Linked DNA regions of Homo sapiens. The protein of the gene in region 1 purifies or fractionates together with the protein of each later gene. This does not show direct contact. Each region holds a gene or a part of one and is shown on either strand. Other genes may lie near its edges.

Region 1 (5,041 bases):
CAGCCTAAGACAAGCTGGGCAAGCAAATGAAGCTGGAATTGCTTGGGTCCAGAAGGCTCTTGGTCTGGCTCCTCTAGGACCTCCCAACTCACCCACTAATTGCATCTCTTGTCCCACCCCGCTCAATAAAAAATAAGTCAAATCTAATATAATCTTTATTTTTTGAGATGGGTTCTTGCTCTCTCACCCAGGCAGGAGTGCAGTGGCGCGATCTCAGCTCACTGCAAGCTCTGCCTCCCAGATTCAAGCGATCCTTCTACCTCAGCCTCCCAAGTAGCTGGTACCACAGGCACATGCCACCATGCTGAGCTAATTTTTGTATTATTTTGTAGAGAACAGGGTTTCGCCCTGTTGCCCAGGCTGGTCTCCAACTCCTGAGCCTCAAGCTCAGAATCCACCTGCCTCAGTCACCCAAATTGCTGGGATTACAGTTGTGAGCCACCATGCCCGACCTTACAAATCTAACTTTAAACTCAGGGTGGTTACTGTGAAACAGCGAGAGAGGTATTGCACCCGGCCTGCAATATCATCTTAAAACAAAAATTTGGCCGGGCATGGTGTGTAATCCCAGCACTTTAGGAGGCATGAGGTCAGGAGTTTGAGACCAGCCTGGCCAATAAGGTGAAACCCTGTCTCTACTAGAAATACAAAAATTAGCTGGGTGTGGTGGCGTGCGCCTGTAGTCCTAGCTTAAACCCAGAAGAATCGCTTAAACCCAGGAGGCGGAGGTTGCAGTGAGCTGAGATCGTGTCACTGCACTTCAGCATGGGCGACAGAGCAAGACTTTCTCAAAAAAAAAAAAAAAAAATTAAGTGATAAGGAATCTGTGGTTCCTTCATCTTGATGAAGAGCATGTTTCATTTAAGTTCCAGTTTGGAATATTACCCCCCAGCCACCAGCATAAAATACGAATGCTACTTACTCATGTTCCCTTGAGCCAGGACTAGGTAAGTGCACAGTGATCCCTTTTGCTTCTCCATTTTCTATGACGACTACTCCTTGTTGACATATTTGACACTGTTGTTTTACTATAATAGATGAAGCTGTAATGAAGTCTATTCTGGGTAGGGTCTGAGATGCTGTCACCTCCGCTAATGTCAAGTTGGTGGTGCAGTAAGTGGCATGATAGAATGAGCTCTGAGCTTTAAATCAGGAACTCTGGGTTCATCTGACCCTGGCTTTGCTACAGAACTAGCTGTATCAACAACTACTTTTTTTTTTTTTCTTGATGGCTGCTGGCTGTTTGCTAACTGCTTTATAAATATCAGTGTCCTTAAATTTTGGTACAAACGTGCAGTGTTCTAATAGGATTATTCCATACATATTGTTCTAAATCTTGCTTTTTGTTTTTTCTTTTAACAATATTATTTGGTGATCTTTCTCAGCTGAATGATTAAAAATCTGCCTCCTGTTTCATTAATTCATTCAAAAATGTGCTAGGCATTATTTCAGGTACCAAAATGTGGCTGTGAACAAACCAAAGACTTTACGTTGTTCTTAATGGCTGCGTGGTATTCATTATTATAGATGTACCATATTTATTCAACCATTCCCCTTCAAATACACCAGTAGGTTATTTCCAATTTTTTTAAAGCAACAATGAGATACTGAGTATATGTGTCGTGCTAAGACTTCCTACTGATAATCTACTTATATTATGTTGTGTAATTCTTTTTTCTTAGTGATTTATGGTATATTTTTGTAGTTTTACCAGTCTGATTATCTGTCTTAACTTTTCAGTATTTTTCTTAACAATGAGGTGTTTAAATCCTCTGAAATGTATTTTGCATATGTATCATACAAAGTCTGTAGGAATATGACTTCCTTTCCCAATGGATTATTAATTTTTATAGCAGCATTTATTGAATTATTTTTCTTACCTATTGATTTCTCCATATATTCTCAGATCTCTGTGATTTTCCATTTTAATCCTCTGATCCATCTGCTTGGGTTATACTGTCTTTCGGTAACATTATTTTGATATAATTTCAAACTTTAAAAAGGCTGCAAGAACAATACCCAACACTCCCACATAACCTCTACCCAGATTCATTGACTCTTAACATTTTGCCCCATTTGCTTTATCATTCTCTATCTTGCTACAGATAGTTTTTTTTTTGAAACCATAAGTTGGAGACAGTAAGCACTTTTATCTCTAAATATTTCAGTGCGTATTTCCCAAGAATGGGAATATTTATCTTTTTTTTTTTTTTCTGAGACAGGGTCTCACTCTGTCACCCAGCCTGGAGCACAGTTGTGTGATCTCTGCTCACTGCAACCTCTGCCTCCTGGGCTCAAGGGATCCTCCCACCTCAGCCTCCCCAGTAGTTGGGACTACAGGTGTGTACCACTGTGCCTGGCTCATTTTTGTATTATTTTGTAGAGATGGGTTTTTGCCATATTGCCCAAGCTGGTCTCGAATTCCTGGGCTCAAGCAATCCGCCCATCTTGGCCTCCCAAAGTGCTGGGGATTATAGGCATCAGCCACTGTGCCTGGCTGGGAATATCAATCTTACATCGTTTCAGTACACTAATCATAATCAGGAAATTAAACACTGGTACATTTATCTATATACCATATGCAAATTTTGTCAATTGTCCTATTTTTTTTTTTTTTTTCCTGTTTCAAGATCCAATCTGGAATCTTGGATTTCATTGAACTGTTCAGTTCTTCAGGCTTTGTCTTTTTATGACCTTGACATTTTTGAAGTCCTGTTTTATAGGAATGTCCCTCAGTTTGGGTTTGTCTGATGTTCCCTCAAGGTTAGATTCAGGATGTGCATTTTTAAAGTCATAAGTCCTTAGTGCATCATATTAGAAGATATGTGTGTCCCATTGTAGGCAAAGCTAAACTCAAAGAACTTGACTAGGGTATTATCTGCCAGTTTTCTCCACTGTAAACTTGCTGTTTTTCCCTTTGTAGTTGCTACACTGCTGATTATATCCAATTTAAATTGTAATATCTGGTATTCTTGGCAATTTATATTTTCCCATAGCCTTTAGAATCACTCAATCTTCCAATCCAAGATCGTGGTATGTTTTTGCATTTTTTCCTTTAATATATTTGAGTTTTTTCTTCATATAGGCTTTTTACCTTGTTAAATGTATTCTGAGGGTTTTGGTGTTTTTGTTTGTTTCTGAGAGAGGGTCTTACTCTGTCGCCCAGGCTGGAATGCAGTGGCATAATCTTGGCTCACTACAACCTCCGCCTCATGGGCTCAAGTGATGCTCCCACCTCTGCTGGGATTACAGGGGTGAGCCAGACAGAGTCTCGCTCCATCACCCAGGCTGGAGTACAGTGGTGCCATCTCTGCAACCTCTGCCTCCCGGGTTCAAACAATTGCCTCAGCCTCTCGAGTAGCTGAGATTACAGGTCTGCGCACCATACCCAGCTAATTTTTGTGTTTTTTGTAGAAATGGCATTTCGTCACGTAGGCCAGGCTGGTGTTGAACTCCTGGATTCATGTGATCTGCCCACCTCAGCCTCCCCAAAGTGCTGGGATTACAGACAGGCATGAGCCACTGTGCCTGGCCTATTCTGTTTGTTTGGTTTTTTAACATGTTTTGCAGCCATTATTATGATTTCCTTTTTTTTCTTTTTCTTTTTTTTTTTTTTTTTTTTTTTGTTGTTGTTGTTGCCCAGGCTAGAGTAGAATGGCGCAATCTTGGCTCACCGCAACCTCCGCCTCCCGGGTTCAAGTGATTCTCCTACCTCAGCCTCCCAAGTAGCTGGGATTATAGATGCCCACCACCACGCCTGGCTAATTTTGTATTTTTAGTAGTAGAGACAGGGTTTCTCCATGTTGGTCAGGCTGGTCTCAAACTCCTGACCTCAGGTGATATGCCCGCCTCGGCTTCCCAAAGTGCTGGGATTACAGGCATGAGCCATTGCGCACGGCCCATTAGTATTATTTCTTAAATCATTGAGCATCTTGAGTTTGTTTTTTTGTTTGTTGGTTTGTTTGTTTTGCGACGGAGTCTTGCTCTGTCACCCAGGCTGGAGTACAGTGGCGCGATCTCAGCTCACTGCAAGCTCTGCCTCCCAGGTTCATGCCATTCTCCTGCCTCAGCCTCCGGAGTAGCTGGGACTACAGGCACCCGCCACCACGCCTGGCTAATTTTTTGTATTTTTAGTAGAGACGGGGTTTCACCGTGTTAGCCAGGATGGTCTCGATCTCCTGACCTCGTGATCCCCTGCCTTTGCCTCCCAAAGTGCTGGGATTACAGGCGTGAGGCAGCGCACCCGGCCTTTTTTTTTTTCTTTTTTAAATAAGGCATATCATATTGCTTTGATTATAAAAATACCACTTGATTTTGTATTTTTTCCAGTATTCTACTTATTTGGTCTTTTGATGATGGTATAAATACTAAGTGAGGCATTATGTGAAAAATGAATATTTCAGTGCTTCATAGCGTGACATTTTATTTTTATTTTATTTATTTATTTCTTTGAGATGGAGTCTTGCTCTGTCAACCAGGCTAGAGTACAGTGGCATGATGGCTCACTGAAACCTCTGCCTCCGGGGTTCAAGCAACTCTCCTGCCCCAACTGCCCAAGTAGCTGGGATTACAGGCGCCCACCACCACACCCGGCTAATTTTTGTATTTTTAGTAGAGACAGGGTTTCACCATGTTGGCCAGGCTGGTCTCGAACTCTGGACCTCGTGATCCACCTGCTTCAGCCTCCCAAAGTGCTGGGGTTAAAGGCGTAAGCCACCGTGTGTGGCTGAGCCACCATGCCCAGCTATTTTTACTTTTATTTTATTTATTTATTTTTGAGACGAAGTCTTGCTGTGTTGCCCAGGCTGGAGTGCAAAGGCGCCATCTTGGCTCACTGCAACCTCTATAGTGTGACACTTTAAATTTCGTAATTTTATATTTGTTGATTTCTTCCAAATGCTTGTATTTACAAATTTTTCTGTTTGTTGTTGTTTGTTTGTTTGTTTTTGAGACAAAGTCTCACTCTGTCGCCCAGGCTGGAGTGCAATAGTGTGATCTCAGCTCACTGCAACCTTTGCTTCCTGGGTTCAAGCAATTCTCC
Region 2 (5,041 bases), on another chromosome or scaffold:
CCTAGAGTAGCTCAGATCAGTTCACACCCCTCTACCCACGACTACCCAGGAAAGGACATGATCCCTCATTAAGACCCAGCTATTGCCTAAGGGTCACTGAGGGCCTCAAACCCCAGAGGCTCTGTGGCAGGCACCTGGGAGCCCACTTGGCGGGCCTTGCCCTGGCCCAGACATCACAGACCACTCTCACTGCACTGGCTATTAAGTGCCTGCTCTCTACTAGGGATTCCTAGGGGGTGGCCAAGAGAAGGAAAGACACCCCCACAGGAAGGATGGGCCCAGAAACTGACTTTCCATGGCTCCGACGAGGGGTCCTGAGGCACTCTATCGAAGTGCAAGTCCCTGAATCTGTGTCCCAAGCTCTGAAAATGCAAGAGGTGCTTGGAGCAAACAGGGAGTGTCCTGTCACTGAAGGTCTGCAAGCAGAGGGGTAAGGGACTGTTTGCCTCCTACAGATTTCCCTTCTTTCTCTTCTTCTGGGCCTCTGGGCCAGAGACAGGCATTTTACTTGATGCGATCATCCTCAGCACATGCCTGACACATAGTAGGTGCTCAGTAATTGTTAGCTGTTGTTATTAACCATTATGTGAGTTTAGAGTGCCCGTCCTATTGCAGAGAGGGAGAGAGCAGAGACAAATGGTGATTCTAAGAACCTGTCCCCTTCCCTGGGACTCACTCCAGTGGCTGGTCGCCAGTTGCACCCACACGCGGCTGGCTGCGGGCAGGAGAGCTGGGCTCATTCGTTCTGGCAGCTGTCCCTGCAGATGAGGATCGAGGGTATGTGACTGCCTGAGCAGCTACTTCAATCCTAATGTCCCTTTAATAGCTCTCGTCAAATTGCCACAGCTCTCCCCAGAGATTTTCATGGCTATGGAAAATAAATAGCCATTATCTGACCTCCAGGGGAATGAAGATGTCTGCAGAATTCGGGGAAAAGCAGTTATAAAACTGAGTAGAGCCAGCGCACCCTTTCCCTATTAGCAACCTCTAAGGGAGTCCTAGCTACTGCCTAGGAAATCACAAAATAAATGTATTCACTCCTCAGACTCTCTTTTTTCACCTATTAGTATGTATATGAGTACATTTGGCTTGTGGTAGATCAGGAGAGAGAAAGAAAGAAAAAACAACTACAAAAATATGTAATGATTAGTTAGTCCAGGGGTAGCAGGAAAAGAAGCTGGTCAAGTAAAGGGTTTAATCCTTTTTTATTTTTATTATTTTTTTAGACAGGGTATCACGCTGTTGCCCAGGTTGGAGTACAGTGGTACAACCATAGCTCACTGCAGCCTCAAACTCCTGGGCTCAAGCAATCCTCCTGCCCCAGCCTCCCGAGCAGCTGGGACTACAGTGCACACCACCACACAAGGCTAATTTTCAAATTTTGGGCAGTTTTACTATGTTGCCCAGGCTGGTCCTGAACTCCTGGCCTCAAGGGATCCTCCCATCTCAGCCTCCCATAGTGCTGGGGTTACAGGTATGAGCCACCAAGCCCAGCTGGAAGTTTTTAAAACGTTTCAACATTCAAAGAATGTGAGAATGAAAATGCCCTTCCTTTTCTTACCACCTAATTTGGAAAAGAGAAACTATTTTTTTAATCCCAAAAACATTTGGTATAGCTGGCAAAAAGTGTTCTGTTCTTATATATGAGACAGTTCCTGAAATAGGCCCTAGAGACAGCACTCACGGCCAAGTGGGACCTTGCTCTGGTACTAGCTCAGGTGGCCAAGGGGTTTCAGGAGAGGGTCTGGACTTCCCCACATCCTGCTTTCATCAGCTCTAAGACTAGGTGGTGACATCTGCTTCTCAATAACCTTCACCAGGCTTGCTGTGAAGGTCACCTGAGATAAGAGACGTGAAAGGATGCTGAAGATGCAAAAGCCTAAGCCAGGCAGCCCTGCTTGGCCTGGCCTCCTGGAAAGGGGCAATGCCCCAGCCCAGCACACAACCAGGGCCTCATGATGACAATTCTGCAAAACTGGTCCTTGGCTCGTCCTCCCTTGCCAGGATGAGACTGTGCAAAGCCCCACCCACAGGCAGCTGCTCCAGGTGTCGTTTAAGGGCTCCAAATTCCTTCCAACTAAAAGTATCTTTCCATCCCTGTTGGTATAGTGGTTAGGGGAAAAAAAATTAAAAGAAAATGAACAATGTATTTTCCACGTCAAGATGCCTGAACTTCCCATAACAGCTGTCACTTTAAGAAGCCATAAGAGAAAGGGCCAGGTCTCCATAGGTCATTATTCTTCCCAGGCGGGGTCAACTTCCTCTATTAACACCCATGCACGTATCAGAAGCTACCCATGAAAGGCCAAGGGCCTACAGCAAAGCTCCCATGACTGGAAAGTATTTAAGCATAAGGAACAGAATAGTTTCGAGGGAAGGATAAGAAAGAGAGTCGGGAAGGCTGGGCAGAACACTACTTGGACAACTAAAAAAGCAAGTGGGGACATCTCAAAGAGTGGGCTGGCCACTCCCAGAACCTGTGTAAGCAGGAAACAAAAAGCATTTATTGCTGGTAAATGCTTAACAACTGGCTCTCTGGGATAAAAATGTATATATGTACAGAAATTTATTATAAATTTCATTGATAAAAATGATGTGCAGCACATAATTTATAAATAAAATATACAATGCCATTTATTGTAATTCTAGAAAAGTTTTTTACAGAATGCTTTTGTTGATTTTTGCTGACTCTTCTATCCAACCTGTTTGCAATTCAACCATGATATGACACAACCAGACTACAAATAAATGTTTGTTACTATCTGATTCAACAAAGCAGTCACTCATTTCATGGAATGGATATGGGCTGTTACTCAGTGAAAAGACACATGAGATGGTTCAGTGCTAACTCACCCTTCTGACAGAAAATGCCAGAAAGTTTCCACCCCATTGACAGGCTTGGAGTCTTGAGTACCATCTGGGTGGGTGGAGCTGGCACTGGCACGAAACCTCTCCACTGCTATCCTGACAGAGATGGGGCATGTACTTCCCAGGGCCACTTGCCAACCCAGGGAGGTTTTCCATCTTGCTGGTTTGGTGAGGGAGGCTGCTTTCAGATTTCAAGTGGACACTGCTGGCCTGGATAGGGCTGAGGGGCTCTGCCTCCAAGAGGTGTTCTTCGCTTTGTGGCATTACCTCTCTGAAGTACTTTAGAGTACTTTACAGGCCTGCTTTACTCCTCAGAATCCTGCTGCAGAGCTGAGGGCTGGATAATTTCATGTTCTCTGGCAACTGATGGCCACTGTGGTACCAGAGGAGGGATGTATGTCTGGGCACTTTCAAAAGTATGTTATTAGAAAGTTGCGCATCACGGCCGGGCACGGTGGTTCATGCCTGTAATCCCAGCACTTTGGGAGGCCGAGGTGGGTGGATCACCTGAGGTCAGGAGTTCGAGACCAGCCTGGCCAACACTGGTGAAACCCCGTCTCTACCAAAAATACAAAAATTAGTGGGGCGTGGTGGCGCACGCCTGTAATCCCAGCTACTCCGGAGGCTGAGGAAGAACTGCTTGAACCTGGGGGGTGGAGGTTGCAGTGAGCTGAGATCATGCCACTGCACTCCAGCCCTGGGCAACAAGAATGAAACTCTGTCTCAAAAAAAAAAAAAAAAAAAGAAAGTTCTGCATCAATCCTGTTGTCTCACTGTAAATAGCATAAGAACAATGTTCTGGCCCCTCCCTCCACTTGAGTTGCCAGGTTCTACGACAGGGTCTTCCCCACCATGGACCAGAATACAAGATAGCATTTTTTCTGCAGTAGTATCCAAAGCAAAAATTTCATCAGAAGGATGGCATTGGAGTCTCTTTCAGTTGAAAAGTGCATGCAGACAATTGAGTGTCAGATCCAGGGGAGAGGAAAAGGCGGCAGAGAACTAGGGAGACAGGTCGAGAGTAAGGAGATGAAGGGACATTTGAGACTCTGAATTTTTTCTTTTTTTGTAGAGGTGGGATCTTGCTATGTTGCCCAGGCTAGTCCTGAACTCCTGGGCTCAAGTGATTCTCCCACTTTGACCTCTCAAAGTGCTGGGAATATAGGCATGAGCCACCATGCCAAGCCGAGGGAAGCTGTTTCTTACAGCTGGGTTTCTTGCACATCCAGACTTCACATCCCGCCTTGTGCATACAGACTGGGAGTCCCTTGGGTAGCGGGGGACAGGAATGGGATTGGCTTTGGCCATGAGGCAGATTAAGCAACACCTAAGGGGAGTTGCTAGTGGACCAAGGCCCAGACCACAATGCAGGGGAGAGGGAGAAAAGGGGTGGAAGAGTGACAGGAACTGATATTTTTTTAGCAGTTACTATGAGAGGAATAAAACTGGACAGGAAAGAAAGAGAAAATACATAAAACAAGGACAGGTTGTTCGGCATCTCTTCAGGAGATGACTGTCTGGTACATCCTTTACCACCATTATCCTCAATCACCAATCACTAAGCATTGCCATGTACCAGGCCCAGGGGCTGGGACTATGGGAGCTAGTTCTTATAGTGGCTCATGATCTACTTGGGAAGGCAAGACCTAAAGAAATGACAAGTAAGCCACAATGGCATATGCTTTGTCGAATGAGAGGGTACCAATCAGCGAGTGTGCCGGGGACTTAGAGGAAGGGGTCACAATGCCCTGGGATGGCTGAGGTCCCCACGGAGATGTTGGGCCTTGAGCCAGAACTTGAGTGCTGGATAACACTTGAGTGGAAAGGAGGGGCACAGAGACTGTCCAGATTGGAATGGACAAGGCATAGCAGAAAGTACGGTGGTACACTCAAGGCACTGTGAACAGCAGTTTATTATTATTTTTTCCTTCATGCTGTCTTTTGGGGTCCTTAGGAAATGACTCTGTTGTCCTTCACAAGCCCAGCTAGGCCCTGGAACAAATGGCCTTTAGAGAGTTCAACAGTATGAAACTCCTACTACGAGTAAATCAATGTTAGGTGTTGTGGGGTATGTGGAAAAGTGAAAAAATAATAGTCCCTGCCTTAAAGGACAAGAAATGATTTTCCCTTTATCAAATGTCCAGGGAAGGAAACTGTGGGATGACACTGTGGC
Region 3 (5,041 bases), on another chromosome or scaffold:
AAAAGTGATTTTATCTGAATCTGTAATTTTCATGCTCTGATTTTAAAAATTTACAAATAGATCCTTCGATTATTTAGCAGGTAGCATCTAAAGGAACTGGTTTAAATCCTAATGCCAAAGTATGGCAAGAAATTGCTCCTGGAAATACTGATGCCACCCCAGTAACTCATGGAACTGAAAGCTCTTGGCATGAAATAGCAGCTACATCAGGTGCTCATCCTGAGGGTAAGTCTTAAATATTTGGTCATAAAAATCACAGTTTGGTTAAATGTATGGCCAAGCAAGTTTACTGAACTTGAGACACATCTCTTTTTTTTTTTTTTTTTTTTGAGACAGAGTCTTCCTCTGTCACCCAGGCTGGAGTACAGTGGCGCAGTCTTCACTCACTGCAACCTCCACCTCCCGGGTCCAAGCAGTTCTCCTGCCTCAGCCTCCCGGGTGGCTGGGATTACAGGCGCCTGGCTTTATCTCATGCCTGTAATCCCACACCCGGTTACCACACCCGGCTAATTTTTGTATTTTTAGTAGAGATGGGGTTTCACCATATTGGCCAGGCTGGTCTCGAACTCCTGACCTCAAGTGATCCACCAGCCTCGGCCTCCCAAAGTGCTGGGATTACAGGTGTGAACCACCATGCCTGGCCAGGATATATCCTTTGATTATTTGATTAAGTATATTTATCAATTTTTCTTCCTTTAAACATACTGCATCCAGCATTTATAAATGTTTAACATGTAGTTTGTATATAATTCTCATTTATATCTAACATGAATAGATTGCCACTAATTTCAAGTAGTAGCCGTGTTTTTGGGTCCAGCATGCAACCCATCTATAATAATTATATTTATAAATTAGTTTTTATCTACCATCATTGACTCTGCTATTTACTCACTGTTCGACCTTGGGCAAATAACTTAATTTCTCTATGCTTTTTTCCCTCCATCTGTAAAACAGAAGCAATCTTAATTACAGCACAGGATTTTCTGATAATTAAATGAATAAAGTGCATGGAGTAGTCTGATACATGGATAATGCTATATACGTTTTAGCAATTGTTGATCATTTTAGTTTATCTGTAATTGTCAAAACTTATCTCCCTCGGAATGATAACTCTTGCTTAAAACCATGCGGACATATTTCAAACTGGTAGAAATCCTTAAAATCTTTTTATAGGTGACATACTGCCCAGAGTTCCTGAGAATAGAATTTAAATAATTCCCATTTACTTTCAGTGTCTGTCTTTAATACAGGTAATGCAGAGCTCTCAGAAGATATATGTAAAGAATATGAAGTAATGTATTCTTCATCTTGTGAAACCACAAGAAATACTACAGGCATTGAAGAATCAACTGATGGGATGATTTTAGGACCAGAAGATCTGAGTTACCAAATATATGATGTTTCCGGTAAACTTTATGGTTTTATTGTTAAAATGAGAATTCAGTACAGGACACCCCCCACCCATGGTCTCTTTATACTTGTTCTGATAAACCTATGGCATTATTTTCTTATTTGAAAAGAAGGTTACGTTAATGAAATGTTAGTTGATTGTTACATTGTTTTCAGATAACATGACTTTTGTAATGTTAAGATTGTTTATGAGGGTTCTATTAAAGGAAAGCGTGAAATTAAAGATAACAGAAAAAAAGGCGGGGTGGCTCATGCCTGTAATCCCAGCGCTTTAGGAGGCCCAGGCGGGCAGATCACTTGAGGTCAGGAGTTTGAGACTAGCCTGGCCAACATGGTGAAACACTGTCCTATACTGAAAAAAAAAAATTAGCTGGGCATGGTGGCATGCACCTATAATCCCAAGATCATGCCACTGCACTCCAACCTGGGTGACAGAGTGAAACTGTGTCTGAAAAAAAAATTTTGTGTGTCTATATATAAACAACTGCCTACTTTGAACATAGAGTTGAAGTGATATGGTAAGCAATTGGTGTTTTTTTGTTGTTGTTTTTTTGTTGTTGTTGAGAGGGAGTCTCGCTCTGTTGCCCAGGCCGGAGTGCAGTGGCGTGATCTTGGCTCACTGCAATCTCTGCCTCCTGGGTTCAAGTGATACTCCTGTCTCAGCCTCCCGAGTAGCTGGGATTACAGGCACGCGCCACCACACCTGGCTAATTTTTGTATTTTTAGTAAAGATGGTGTTTCACCATGTTGGCCAGGCTGGTCTCAAACTCCTGACCTCAAGTAATCCACCTGCCTTTGGCCTCCCAAAGTGCTGGGATTACAGGCGTGAGCCACCATGCCCGGCCTTTAAGTGCTTTTAGTATTGTGCATTGTTAATTTTTTGATAAAGATAACCTTAAACTAATATGAAATGTATCTGATGAAAGAATATCTAGATTGACAGAAATTAGTTAGACTTTGAACTGTCCAAATTATAAAAATAATAAAAAATACAGTTTGGGCCAGGCACAGTGGCTTATGCCTGTGGCCAAGGTAGGAGGATTGCTTGAGCCCAGGAGTTTGAGAACAGTCTGGGCAACATAATGAGAGCCTGTCTCTACAAAAAAATAAAAATAAAAAGTTAGCTGGGTATCATGGCACAAGTTTGTGGTCCTAGCTACTCAAGAAGCTGTGGTGGGAGGATCATTTGAGCCCAGGAGGTTGAGGCTATACTGAGCTGTGATCACACCACTGTACTCTAGCCTGGGCAACAAAGGGAGACCCTGTTTCTCTGAAACAATAGCTTTGTGGTGAATTTTGATTGTAGATACTTTGTGGCTTCTGAGTACAACAGTATGTCAGATTTATCACCTCTACTAACATGCTATTAACTTTTTTTCCCTCTTCTTTTCTACCATCAGGAGAAAGCAATTCAGCAGTTTCTACAGAAGACCTAAAAGAATGTCTGAAGAAACAATTAGAATTCTGTTTTTCACGGTATTGCTGTTTCCCCTTTATTGAATTTTATTAGTAGATGTAAAATACGTGTGAAATAGAGCGCAAGGATGGTGATTATTATTTAACTAATTTTTTTTTTTATTTTCTTGAGACAGAGTCTCATGTTGTCGCTGGGCTGGAGTGCAGTGGTGTGATCTCGGCTCACAGCAGCCTCCGCCTCCAGGGTTCAAGAGATTCTTGTGCCTCAGCCTCCAGAGTAGCTGGGATTACAGGCGTGCAGCCACCATGCCCAGCTAATATTTGTATTTTTAGTAGAGACAGGGTTTCACCATGTTGGCCAGGCCAGTCTCAAACATGCAACCTCATGTGACCTGCCCTCCTCTGCCTTGCAAAGTGTCGGGATTACAGGCGTATGGCACCACACTCGGCCCCTTGTCTAGATTTAAAAGTGTAGGGTCGGGCGCTGTGGCTCATGCCTGTAATCCCAGCACTTTGGGAGGCTTCGGTGGCTGGATCACCTGAAGCTGGGAGTTCGAGACCTGCCTGACCAACATGGAGAAACCCCGTCTCTACTAAAAATACAAAAATTAGCGGGGCATGGTGGTGCGTGCCTGTAATCCCAGCTACTTGGGAGGCTGAGGCAGGAGAATCACTTGAACCCCGGAGGCGAAGGTTGTGGTGAGCTGAGATCGCACCATTGCGCTCCAGCCTGGGCAACAAGAGCGAAACTCCATCTCAAAAAAGAAAAAGTGTAGTCTCCAGTCTGATATGCAGAGGATCTATTCTTAATATAAAGATAATGAAGTTTGCATTGGATGTTTTTTCTATGAACATACTCAATTTTGGAATTGACAAAAAGTTATTTCTTAATGCATGTTTTAATAGTTGATTCTTGTAATGTTAATCATAGAGTCATTTTTGGCAAAATAGTAAGGAGTTGGACAGATAATTTATATTGCCAATGTCTTCTCTTAAATAAGGAATCCTTTCAGGCAAACATTTGGAGAAGTCTTATTTACAGATAAGAATAATGGGCCAGGCGCAGTGGCTCATGCCTGTAATCCTAGCACTTTGGGAGGGCAAGGTGGGCAGATCATGAGGTCAGGGGTTCAAGAACAGGCTTGCCAACATGGTGAAACCTTGTCTCTAATAAAAAATACAAAAATTAGCCAGGTGTGGTGGTGGGCGCCTGTAATCCCAGCTACTCGGGAGGTGGCAGCAGGAGAATCACTTGAACCGGGGAGGTAGAGATTGCAGTGAGCTGAGGTTATTCCTGGGCTCCAGCCTGGGCGGCAAGAGCGAAATTCCACCTCAAAAACAAGGAAACAAAAACATTCATGTAATATTTACTTTAGCCTGTACTTTGGGAGGCCAAAGTAGGTGGATCACCTGAGGTCAGGAGTTCAAGACCAGCCTGGCCAATATGGCAAAATCCCATCTCTACGAAAATACAAAAATTAGCGGGGTGTGGTAGCGTGGCCCTGTAGTTCCAGCTACTGGAGGCTGAGGCAGGAGAATTGCTTGAACCCAGGATGTGGAGTATGCAGTAAGCCGAGGTTGCAGCACTGCACTCCAGCCTGGGTGAATTTTACCTACTAACTAGATCATTTATGGGTCTGCTTCTATTGTCTGGGTTTCTTCTCTTGAATTATCTGTAATAATTTACTGCCTTTTTGTATGTCTTGTAAATTTTGATTTTATGCTGTACATTACATACAACAGAACCATAGAAGATGTAGGTGATATAACTCTAGACAGAGTTTGAGCTTTTTTTCTGTTAGGCAGAGAGTGATATGTTGATTGCTTCAATCCAATCAGGAACTGAGCTAGGTCAGGGCTGAGCAACAATTTTAAATGGACTCAGTTCACCTTTGATTTAGCTCTATTCCTTCTACATGGCCCTTTCAGGCTTTTGATTTAGAGCTTGGCAGTTTTGTGTCACCCTAATCTTACAAAACCAAGGAGATTTAGATCTCTAATACAGAGGTTTGAGATTTAGCTCTTTAACTTCCTACCCCATACTGCTTGAAAATCTGGCAGTGTCTTGGCCTGGCGCAGTGGCTCACACCTGTAATCCCAGCACTTTGGGAGGCCAAGGCAGGCGGATCACCTGAGGTGAGGAGTTCAGTATTAGCCTGACCAACATGGTGAAACCCCATCTCTACTTAAATACAAAAAATTAGCTGGGCATGGT
Region 4 (4,297 bases), on another chromosome or scaffold:
GGTGACACTCACAGGTTGTGTTTGTGAATCAAGATGAACAGCCCGTTCAAGGCCAAGAGGCTGAGGGCCCCCCCTGCAGACAGACAGACACAGGCTGGAGCTGCAGTGACCTCGCTCCCACCCTACCCCCTGCCCACACTGAGTGTAAGTCTGTGGAGTGTGGCCTCTGCCCCTGCTGTCCCCTCCCACAGCCCCCACGGACACAAAGCTGGAGACCACATGCAGGGCAGGGGAGTGGGGGGTGGAGGCAGTGGGATCGGGGAAGAGGTGCTGCGGGGTGGGGGTTGGGGGTGTGAGCGAGGCGGCGGCACTCACCGAGGGGATTAGGGGTGTGGTGTGAGCGAGGCGGCGGCACTCACCGAGGGGATTAGGGGTGTGGTATGAGCGAGGCGGCGGCACTCACCGAGGGGATTAGGGGTGTGGTATGAGCGAGGCGGCGGCACTCACCGAGGGGATTAGGGGTGTGGTATGAGCGAGGCGGCGGCACTCACCGAGGGGATTAGGGGTGTGGTGTGAGCGAGGCGGCGGCACTCACCGAGGGGATTAGGGGTGTGGTGTGAGCGAGGCGGCGGCACTCACCGAGGGGATTAGGGGTGTGGTGTGAGCGAGGCGGCGGCACTCACCGAGGGGATTAGGGGTGTGGTGTGAGCGAGGCGGCGGCACTCACCGAGGGGATTAGGGGTGTGGTGTGAGCGAGGCGGCGGCACTCACCGAGGGGATTAGGGGTGTGGTGTGAGCGAGGCGGCGGCACTCACCGAGGGGATTAGGGGTGTGGTGTGAGCGAGGCGGCGGCACTCACCGAGGGGATTAGGGGTGTGGTGTGAGCGAGGCGGCGGCACTCACCGAGGGGATTAGGGGTGTGGTGTGAGCGAGGCGGCGGCACTCACCGAGGGGATTAGGGGTGTGGTGTGAGCGAGGCGGCGGCACTCACCGAGGGGATTAGGGGTGTGGTGTGAGCGAGGCGGCGGCACTCACCGAGGGGATTAGGGGTGTGGTGTGAGCGAGGCGGCGGCACTCACCGAGGGGATTAGGGGTGTGAGCGAGGCGGCGGCACTCACCGAGGGGATTAGGGGTGTGGTGTGAGTGAGGCGGCGGCACTCACCGAGGGGATTAGGGGTGTGGTATGAGCGAGGCGGCGGCACTCACCGAGGGGATTAGGGGTGTGGTAGGAGTGAGGCGGCGGCACTCACCGAGGGGATTAGGGGTGTGGTGTGAGCGAGGCGGCGGCACTCACCGAGGGGATTAGGGGTGTGGTGTGAGCGAGGCGGCGGCACTCACCGAGGGGATTAGGGGTGTGGTGTGAGCGAGGCGGCCGCACTCACCGAGGGGATTAGGGGTGTGGTGTGAGTGAGGCGGCCGCACTCACCGAGGGGATTAGGGGTGTGGTAGGAGTGAGGCGGCGGCACTCACCGAGGGGATTAGGGGTGTGGTGTGAGCGAGGCGGCGGCACTCACCGAGGGGATTAGGGGTGTGGTGTGAGTGAGGCGGCGGCACTCACCGAGGGGATTAGGGGTGTGGTGTGAGTGAGGCGGCGGCACTCACCGAGGGGATTAGGGGTGTGGTGTGAGCGAGGCGGCGGCACTCACCGAGGGGATTAGGGGTGTGGTGTGAGCGAGGCGGCGGCACTCACCGAGGGGATTAGGGGTGTGGTGTGAGCGAGGCGGCGGCACTCACCGAGGGGATTAGGGGTGTGGTGTGAGCGAGGCGGCGGCACTCACCGAGGGGATTAGGGGTGTGGTGTGAGCGAGGCGGCGGCACTCACCGAGGGGATTAGGGGTGTGGTGTGAGCGAGGCGGCGGCACTCACCGAGGGGATTAGGGGTGTGGTGTGAGCGAGGCGGCGGCACTCACCGAGGGGATTAGGGGTGTGGTGTGAGCGAGGCGGCGGCACTCACCGAGGGGATTAGGGGTGTGGTAGGAGTGAGGCGGCGGCACTCACCGAGGGGATTAGGGGTGTGGTAGGAGTGAGGCGGCGGCACTCACCGAGGGGATTAGGGGTGTGGTGTGAGTGAGGCGGCGGCACTCACCGAGGGGATTAGGGGTGTGGTAGGAGTGAGGCGGCGGCACTCACCGAGGGGATTAGGGGTGTGGTAGGAGTGAGGCGGCGGCACTCACCGAGGGGATTAGGGGTGTGGTGTGAGCGAGGCGGCGGCACTCACCGAGGTCGCAGGCGCGGGTGAGGAAGTCGATCATGAGCGTGGGCTGCGCCAGCTGCGGCAGGATGGCGTCATGCACAATCAGCAGCACCTTCTTGTAGAGGCTGAGGGGCAGCTGGGCGGGGGCCGGCAGGTGGGGGTGAGGGGCGGGTGGGCGGGGGCCGGCGGGTCGGGGTGAGGCCTCCGCCCTGGGGGAGACCCGGATGCCGCCCCCGCCCCCTCCCCGGCCTGGCCCCTACCTTGTGCTTGAGGAAGCTGAGCCACATGGCCTGGAAAACCCTCCTGTGCTCCTGCAACGGGGTCCAGACTGCACTCGCCGCCCTCCCCACCCCAGACCAGAGCCCGAGCAGCTGCCAGGGCACCCCGAAGCCCAGCCTGAGCCAACACAAGCCTGCTCTCCACTTTTCTGACCCTGCCTTCCTTCTTCCTGTCCCCATTCAAGTCAGGTACGCCTTGCCCTCGAGGCTGGAGTCTCAGAACAGCCAAGAAAGCAGCTTTGGCAAGACCATGGCCAAGAGGGGGGCTGCGCCCAAAACAGCCCACGGGGCCCACAGGTGGCACCAGAGGCTTGACTCCAAGAGGCGGCGGTGGCCTCTGACCCAAGGGAGGGTCCCGAGTTCACAGGTCTCGTCACCTCCCACACTTCGAGTGACCTGGTGGCCGTGCAAGCTGCCACCTGTACCCTGGGAGTTTCCTCTGGTGAGGAAGGCGGCAGCCTCCATGGGGTCTCACATGCACCCCACACACACCCCCAAACCCGGGAGGGTGCCCGGCTCTCCAGAAGCAACTCACCTTCAGGTGAGCAACCTTCCAGGTGTCCCACAGCTCTGCAGGGAAAGCGAGGGCAAAGGTCACCTGACCCGCAGGGGAGGCAGACCAAGGCTCAGCCCTGTCCGCCCCTGACTCTCAGCACACTCACCCGCCCGCTTCACATAGAAGCTGGAGACGGTGGGCTCCCGGCGGGGCAGGCTCACGGCAGACAGCAGCGTGAAGGCATTGTTCCAAAAGGCGGGGGGCACCTGCGGAGCCTGGCCTGAGTGCCTGGACGCCGCCCCCCAGTCCCTGCCTCCCTGGGAGGCAACAGCATGATGCTGGCGACAGGACCCCATCACCCACCTCGGGGTGCTGGCCAGTGACCCGGGCCACGGCATCCACGGCTGCCTGCATGGTGTGGTAGCGGGTGTCGTCGTAGTCCAGGTACTCCCGGAACTGGGACAGGAGCAGGCTCTGGTCCTCCTCAGGAGACAGCAGGCCTCCCACCACCAACTAGGGGCAAGGACCAGTGAGCAGCCCTGCCCGGCCCAGCATACGCCAGCAAGGTCCAGGCAGGCAGCCCTGCCCCATCGAGCCCCCCAGGCAGACTCCTCCTGGTTGGGTGGGCCACAGGAGCCACAGGAGTGTCCCAGCCAACAGCCAGGCTCAGCTCAGCAGGCCCCGCCCCCACTACGGGGCCATCCTGGGATCTGGCCAGCCAGCCAGGCCCTCTGGGAGTCCCCAGCAAGGCCCTCACCTTGAAGAGCTCTCGGGGGAACAGGTAGTTGCCTTCCCACTTGGACTTCTCCAGGGGGTGCGCTCCTTCCAGCTGCACGAACTTCAGGAGTGCGCTGAGGGCCAGCTCCTGGGAAGGGGGCAGTGCAGGGTGGCTGTGATGCCCTCACCCCACGGATGGGCCCAGAGCTCAGCCCAGTCAGGGAGCCCCTCCCATCTAGGCCCAGAGCTGAGAAAAGGGCGGCCGGGCCTTCTCTTGCTCCACACGCCACCAGATGCCACTCTGGGCTTCCGTGTCCCACCCATGACGTAGAGATGACAAGATCTCTAGTTAAAGAGATCCAGTGCTCACGACAGAGTCTGGCGGGGGAAGGGTACACAGCCCAGGTCTGCTTTATGGGCCACCTGACTGCTCTCTCGTCACCTGTGTCACGGGAATGCCACCATAACCCTTGGGAACAGCTGTGAAAACACAGGCGTGTGATGCCAGCATGGTGCCCAACTCAGACCCAGGCTTGGAAGCTCTCATCTCGGGGTGGCAAACTCAGTGCTTTCAGGGCCCAGGCAAATGACACCACAAAGCAAAAGAGCCTCGTGCGGGATGACAGGAGCACACGGCTGTCTCAGAGCTGTCTCTGACTCTCCCTCCAGCCA

Evidence for each region.
Region 2: the proteins of LIN28A (region 1) and RBM28 purify together in Homo sapiens (affinity purification with mass spectrometry; 3 studies listed by BioGRID and IntAct, with this or other methods). This does not show direct contact.
Region 3: the proteins of LIN28A (region 1) and LARP4 purify together in Homo sapiens (affinity purification with mass spectrometry; 3 studies listed by BioGRID and IntAct, with this or other methods). This does not show direct contact.
Region 4: the proteins of LIN28A (region 1) and NOC4L purify together in Homo sapiens (co-immunoprecipitation; 3 studies listed by BioGRID and IntAct, with this or other methods). This does not show direct contact.

The regions. Positions count from the first base shown.
Region 1 is NC_000001.11:26,419,812-26,424,852, forward strand, and holds part of LIN28A (protein lin-28 homolog A), read left to right. Parts: intron 1-5,041. UniProt on the Homo sapiens protein: RNA-binding protein that inhibits processing of pre-let-7 miRNAs and regulates translation of mRNAs that control developmental timing, pluripotency and metabolism.
Region 2 is NC_000007.14:128,301,568-128,306,608, forward strand, and holds part of RBM28 (RNA-binding protein 28), read right to left. Parts: 3' UTR 1-5,041. UniProt on the Homo sapiens protein: Nucleolar component of the spliceosomal ribonucleoprotein complexes.
Region 3 is NC_000012.12:50,427,685-50,432,725, forward strand, and holds part of LARP4 (la-related protein 4), read left to right. Parts: intron 1-77; coding exon 78-225; intron 226-1,232; coding exon of another isoform or gene 1,233-1,250; coding exon 1,251-1,406; intron 1,407-2,810; coding exon 2,811-2,886; intron 2,887-5,041. UniProt on the Homo sapiens protein: RNA binding protein that binds to the poly-A tract of mRNA molecules. Associates with the 40S ribosomal subunit and with polysomes. Plays a role in the regulation of mRNA translation.
Region 4 is NC_000012.12:132,146,757-132,151,053, reverse strand, and holds part of NOC4L (nucleolar complex protein 4 homolog), read right to left. Parts: intron 3,774-4,297; coding exon 3,666-3,773; intron 3,422-3,665; coding exon 3,272-3,421; intron 3,175-3,271; coding exon 3,075-3,174; intron 2,983-3,074; coding exon 2,948-2,982; intron 2,463-2,947; coding exon of another isoform or gene 2,446-2,462; coding exon 2,395-2,445; intron 2,271-2,394; coding exon 2,159-2,270; intron 74-2,158; coding exon 13-73; intron 1-12.